Homo sapiens: one gene and its partner. The protein of the gene in region 2 purifies or fractionates together with the protein of the main gene of each other region. This does not show direct contact. Each region holds a gene or a part of one and is shown on either strand. Other genes may lie near its edges.

Region 1 (3,500 bases), on a different chromosome or scaffold from region 2:
GAATGGATCTAAGAATGAATAAATTGTGGTAGCTTAGAATGGATAAATTATGGGTAAAAGTCAGCTTCCCATCCCCAAAGTGGTTGGCAACAGTTATGAAACCTGTAATTTACTTGCATTTTATTTTTTATCCTTTGTTGGTTTCCCTAAAGCAGTTAGGAAACTGCTAAACAAAAAAAAAAAGGAGGGGGGAACTTTTCCCCCTCCTTTTTTTAAATGAAAAGGTATTTGTGTGCTTGTGTTTTGTTTTGTTTAGAAGGGCCACAATAACGATGAAGGAATGGAAGCACTTTCATTTGAGAATAAAAAGTTCCTATTTTTCAAATTCAAGGGAAAAAAATAAAAAAGTGACAACTCCTTGGCCCTAGTCCCAAGCCTTGAACAAGTAACCACAGACCCCTGCCCAATCTCTGAGAGCCTCATTTTAGTAACCCCTTTCTGAGGTTCATGTATGTACAACCATGCTTACATGAATCAGCCAATCCCCAATCACTCTGCTTTTAAAAGTCCACCAGTCTTTGTATCCCAGGCTTCTCAAAACTCTGTGATAAGATCAGCTCTGGCTGTGTGAGTTGAGATTTTCTTGGAAGCAGTAAATTTAGCTTCCCTGTTTCAGATACATATGGATGATGGTCCCTACTTTAGACAACACTGTTTGTCAGCCAGCTTTTGGAGAAGAACCCCAGAGGATAGAGAGGATAGTGGAACTTTAAGGAGGAAATGAAATCAAGTCTGATAGAGTCCCTGGAAAGCAGCTAACAAAATTTTCGTTGAGTTTTGCTCTGACCAAAGAAGCTGGACTGGGCCAGAAAGTGACCTTGAGCTTAGTGTTTAGAAATGCATAATGAGGTTATGGCAGCTCTTGTGTGAGAGTGTAAGCTTTTGAAGGCTAGAACCCAAATCAGTGCATTTTATTAAAGAAAATTTTTAAACTTAAAATTTTATAAAGAAAATTTTTAAATTTTTATCCTCCCAGTTCTACAATGCTAATGATCCTTAAATCTCTCCTTTTGCTGAGACCAGGATACATTTTTCACATAGATAACTTTGAAAAGAAATTTATCCGCTTCAAAACAGCTTCTCAAAAACTTGGTGTTTGCTTGTTACCCACCAAAAATTTCTCCCTATTATATGTTAACCCTTTCTGCCTCCCACTCCTCTCCCAGTTTGATTCCAGTCCACCTTTTTGGTTTTACTTTTGCCAAATAAATTCAGACTTTTCCTTCTTTACCTCAATAATTTTTTGATGCTAATTTATTCACCTTGTATGTCTTGGGCACCAGCTTTCCATAGCCATGTCCTCTTTAGAACCTCCTAGCACTTTCTGCATATCTTACGGTTCTTATCCTGTTTTATTTTATATCTTTTGTTCATTTAATGAACATTTGCTACGTACTGTGCTCTGTGATGGGACCCTCTCAAGCAAATATAACATGATTTCTGCCCTGGAGTAGTTCAGCCCAATAGGAGAAATGGATATATAAGTAGATAATTGCAACATGGTGAGTCGAGTGCAGTGGAGTGGTATGTGGTTATGGTACTAAGTCCTAGGAGGGATCACTAAGCCTGTCCTTGGGTGGTGGATACAAGAGAGGAATGTAGAAGTAGAATTGCTTACTCAGAAATTGTCCTTAAAAATCATGAGAGAGCTGGGCATGGTGGTTCATGCCTGTAATCCCCGTACTTTGAGAGGCTGACGGGGAGGATTGCTTGAGCTCAGGAGTTCAAGACCAGCCTGGGTAACATAGGGAGACCCTGTCTCTACCAAAAAATAAAAAAAAGTTAGCCAGGTGTGGTGGCATACATCGGTAGTCCAAGCTACTCATGAGGTTGAGGCAGGAGGATTGCTTGAGGTTGGGAGGTTGAGGCTGCAGTGAGCTGTAATCAAGCCACTATACTCCAGCCTGGGTGAAGGAGCAAGACCCTGTCTCAAAAAAAAAAAAAGAAAAAAAAGATCTTGAGAGGTATTGCCAAATTACCCTGTAAAAGCATAAAAATTAAAATTTTTCTACTTTTACTACCACCAGATGTTAGTAATCTTAATAGTTACTGTTTTGATAATAAAAATTTGACATTTTAAATGGCATTTCTTTATTATTAAAGTTGAATAACCAAATATTTGCCACTTGAGTTTGACTGATATATATTTTAGCTTTTATAGCCTACACATTTAAATTTTGGAATAGTTGGCAGATTTTTAGGAAAGTTACAAGTATAGTACAAATAACTTTTTTCCCTGAATCACTTGAGAATAAGTTGCCAAAAAAGTTGCCACATTACCCTAAATACTACAAACAAGAACATTCTCCTACATATCCATAACAAAACCATCAAAATCAGGAAATCACTACATTCGAGCGGGTTATAGTCTATATAACTATATAGATTATCACTGTATACCAAACCACCCCAAACTTACTGGAGTAAGACATTTTATTTAAGAAGCGCATCAGTTCTCTGGGTCAGTTCTATTCAGACAGGGAAGGGAGATGGTTTGTTTCTGGTCCACAGTGTCTGGGCCTCATCTGGGAAGACTCAAAGGCAGGGGGTGACTTGACAGCTAGGGCTGGAATCCTCAAGAGGCATCTTCACTCCCATGCTGGTAGTTGATGTGGAACACCTCTACCTGGTGTCTCTGTGGGCTAGTTGGCACTTTCTACACATGTGGTATCTAGATTCTGGGCATGATCATCCTGAGAGAGGTATGTGGCATTTTTATGATCTAGTCTTGGAATTCTCATGGCATTATTTCCTCCATACTTGATTGGTCAAGGCAGCCACAAAGTTCTGCCCAAAGGTCAGGAGGGGGCATTAGATGCTGCCACTTTTGGGAGGAGTGTTAGGGCCGTATTGTAAGAGCATGTGGGTTGGAAGGTATTGTGTGTTTGGAAAATTCACTTTGCCACAGGTTGTATCTGTTACTTGATATATGCCCACATTGTCTCGTATCTGGCCTATGGGAGCCCTTTCAAGCTGGTTACTTCTGTGTTCTGTTGACATGCCTCATTGAGCAACTGCTTTATATTCCGGCACAGGATGTTCTAGGCTCATCTTGTCTTTACCATGCTCCAGCCATTTTTCCTAGGGTTCTTTTTAAAGGAAAGCGGTATTTAGGAATTCAGGTTTGAGCCCTAGTTGTGCCCACTGCTACTGGGGTGTATAACTGCATCCAGGCACTCTCAGTGGGCAGAGCTATGGAATGTATGTGTGTATGTGGACACACACTCTCAAACTATCTCTATTCTTCTATCTGTGTGTTGAAAACAATGAGTTCACTTCAGTAACCCCTAGTCTGGTCAAGTACTACAGGGTTTATTTTAATTTTGTGCCTTTTTAGATATTGTTTTAAACAGCTTGAGATATAATTTATGTACCATACAATTCACCAGTTTGAAGTGTACAGTGAATGGCTGTGGGCTCATTCACATTGCGTATACATCACCACAGTTGAGTTCAGAACGAAGAAGCCCTGCTTCCATCACTTCCCAGTTCTCCCAGCC
Region 2 (3,441 bases):
ACAGAGCAAGACTCAAAAAAAAAAAAAAAAAAGCTTCCTAGTTCTGAGCACAGTGGCTCACACCTGTAATCCCAGCACTTTGGGAGGCTGTGGCAGGAGGATTGCTTAAGCCGAGGAGTCCAAGACCAGCCTGAGTAACATAGCAAGACCCTGTTTCTACAAAAATATAAAAATAAAAAAGCCTCCCACCTCAACCTGAGCAGACTCGTTGACCAGGACTGGGTCACAGGCCCATTCTGTGGCCAGGACATTTGGCATGAGTCAGTCATTTGAAGGTAGAATCGACTCATGTCAAGAAGTTGCCACTGGGACGCACTGGTCCAGATGATGGAGGAGGAAGCTTGAGTTGCTATGGAGATGAATTCATTGTGGCTCCTCTATCCATCTGGCCCCAGGAGGCCTTGTCGGTAGAAAGAATGAAGGAACGCTGGACCATCTCAACTGTTCCCTGGATCTGGGACTCCCAACCAACCCCAGAAGCCAAGAACTCATCACGGAAACCAAAATAAGATTGTTTTATTCCAATCCTGAAGAACAATAGTCCAAACAATTCCCCTCCCCTGCTGGAGACTCTCCTGACCCCCAGTGCCCGCCCTCCCTCTCTCTTCAGAAGGCGATGGGGGTCGATGTCTCCAGGTCTTGGAGAAAAACCAAAACCACGCCCCTTGCATTTCGTCTCTACCCGTCTCCCACACATTTCTTTTGTCTCATCTCCGATTTTTCTTCCCCCTCCTACATCCCGTCCCTTCCTCTCCTGCTTCCCCCAGCTTTTCCTCATGTCTTCATTTCTGTCTCTTTGCTTGTCCTCTCTCCTCCATTTCCGGCTCCCCTTTCCATTTTTTCTCGCTTACCTCCTCTCCTTCATCTGTCTTCTGTACTTTCTCCCTTTCCCCTCTCCCCGCTGCACTCCCTAGACTGGCCAGTCTACTCTTGCCAGACACTCCCCATATGATCGCTTCCTCCCCCTCCCCCCAGCTCTGCCCCTTTCCTTCCTTCTGTCCCAGCCTGACCCTGTCTACACCTCTCATCACATGCTTCCTCTCCAGAGGGAAGCCCTCAGAATCCACCCTGCCCATCAACACCTTCCCAAGCTGTGGCTCCAGGACCTCAGAGACCACTTACAGCTTGCCCTTGGACCCAGAGAGGCAAACTGCCATGAGGAGGTCCCTGGATGACCCAGAAGGTGGCCAGGGGGACTGCAACGGTCTCCTTGGCCTCAGCCCTATTATCTTTGGGATCGAAGAATGCCCTCCGACCCTCCTGGTGGAGGGTGGTGGGCAGAGGCATGAAGGGTCAGGGCTCTGGGGCTCTCCCCCAGCAATCCCTGAGCAGGTCCATGTGGAATAAGGCAGCCCCAGTGAGGAGGCGCGCTGCAAAGAGGTGTCTGCAGGGCAGACGGCGGGCGGCGTGAATTGAGCAGCTGCAGCGTGTCAGGGCCCCATCCAGGAAGAAGTCCGAGGTGCCGTCCTTAAGGGCAAAGCCAGCTCCGGTCCAGTGGAAACCCCGGGTCCCATGCTGCCTAGCAAAGGCCAACTCCTCAGCCACCAGGTCTGCCAGCTCTGGCCCGCAGGCTGCTCGGAATTTGGCCAGGGGTTCCCAGTCCACCTCCTCCTCTCCCGGGGGTCGGCAAAGCCTCTTTGGTTCCCTGGGGCCATCTTCGCCTCCTTCCTGCAGGCCGTCACCTGCAGCCAGGTGTTCACTCCTCGCCGCTGCCCATTCTGGGCTGCCTTCCAATACAGTCCCCACCGGGGTGCCAGACACGACTCCATTCCCCAGCCCTAGACACCGCCCTCCTGCGTCTCCCCACTCCATCCCTCGTCCGGCTCGGCTCTTGGGGCCCACGGACCGGGCTCCCCCTCCATCTCCATTCTCCATGCCTGTGACCCTCGTGTCTCCCAGCTGGACCAGAACTATATCCTCCAGGCCCCTTCTTCTTTTGACCCCCACCCTCGCTCCCCTCTCCTCTGCAATCTCTGGCCCTCTCCTCCTCTCATCTTCCCACTGGGGTCCCCTTTGGTCTCCGTTCTCAGGGGCCAACTCCAGGGACTTCTCCAAGGGGATCCCCCTCAAGTTTCTGACCTCCAGCCCCCTCCCCTTCTCTACTTCTGACTGTGGCCCCTTCCATTCTGCAGTTCTCAGTCCCCCTGCCCTTTCATCGTGCAGCTGCGCCCCCCTCCAGGGGCTTCCTTCAAGACTCCTGACCCTCTCATAGTCAAACTGGGTCCCCCTCAGGTCGGTGGTACTCCTGCGATCTTCCAGCTGGGCCACCCTCCAGGTATACCCTTCCAATCCTCTTAGCGCCTGGTCCTCCAACTGGGACCCCCTCCAGACATAACCTTCCAGTCCCCAATCTTTCTCACCCTCCAACTGGGGCCCCCTCCAGTCTCTAATCTCTGGCCCTCTCAGGTGCCCTTTCTCTAACTTCGACCCTCTCAAGACACCCCCTTCCAGTCCCCTCGGCTTCTGATTCTCCAACCGACCCCCTCTCCAATCTCTGATCTGCAGTGCCCTCCCCTTCTCACCTTCGAACTGAGCCCCGCCCCAGTCTCTGGTTTCCAGTGCCCTTGCCCACTCCTTCTCCATCTGGGCTCCCCTCCAAATACTTCCTTCTTTCGGAGCCCCTCCCCAGTCGCCTGTCTCCAGGCCCCTCACCCTCTCGTTCTCCCCCTGGGCTCCCCTCCCTGGCTCATCCTCCAGCCAAGGCCCCCCGCCATCGGGCCCCTCGGGCACCGCCTCCCCGGCCGCGTCGGCCCACTGCATGGCCACCAGGTCGCGAAGGCACTGCGCCACGCCACGCGAGGGGCTGAGACGACGCAGCAGTCGCCGGCGGTGGCCTCGCACCAGGGCACACGCGTCCAGGTCTCTGGCCGCCTCGAAGGCGCGGAAGCGGACCCACATGTCGCGGCGGGGCTCCCAGTTGCGCTCGAAGTAGTCCACGAAGGCGGCTGGGCCGTGGGCGTGGAGCTCGGCCAGCGCCTCGTCGTAGGCTGCGGGCGACGACGCGCCAGCCAGGCGGCACAGGCGCGACCACAGGCCCGGGTCCTCGCGGCCGGCGCCGCCCAGCTCCTGCGCCTTGCTGAAGAGCGTCTCCAGGCCCTGCGCGCGGCAGATCTGCACGCGCGCGCAGGGCAGCAGCTGGCGCACTGCAGGCAACTGCGCCGCCACCTCGGGCCCGGCGGTGAGGCAGCGCACGCGGCCCTTGACGTCTGGCGCGCTCTGCAGCAGCGACGCGAGCGCGAAGCGCAGCAGGCTCGGTGTGCCCGGGCGCGCCACGCAGCAGGCAGCCTGGCGCGCACGGCCCGAGCCGTCCACGCACAGCACGGCCAGCAGATCCAGCGCGCCCTGCAGCCCCGGCAGCCGGTCCACCAGCAGCATGCGAGGGAAGCGCCGCAGCAGCGCCCTGGTGCGCGACGTCAGGAAGAACACCGTCTCCACCACAGC

Evidence for each region. The genes of interacting proteins can lie anywhere in the genome.
Region 1: the proteins of ZSWIM9 (region 2) and ADNP2 purify together in Homo sapiens (affinity purification with mass spectrometry, with the first as the bait; one large-scale study listed by BioGRID). This does not show direct contact.

The regions. Positions count from the first base shown.
Region 1 is NC_000018.10:80,112,262-80,115,761, forward strand, and holds part of ADNP2 (activity-dependent neuroprotector homeobox protein 2), read left to right. Parts: intron 1-3,500. UniProt on the Homo sapiens protein: May be involved in transcriptional regulation. May play a role in neuronal function; perhaps involved in protection of brain tissues from oxidative stress. May be involved in erythroid differentiation.
Region 2 is NC_000019.10:48,194,680-48,198,120, reverse strand, and holds the end of ZSWIM9 (uncharacterized protein ZSWIM9), read right to left. Parts: coding exon 1,294-3,441; 3' UTR 501-1,293; downstream 1-500.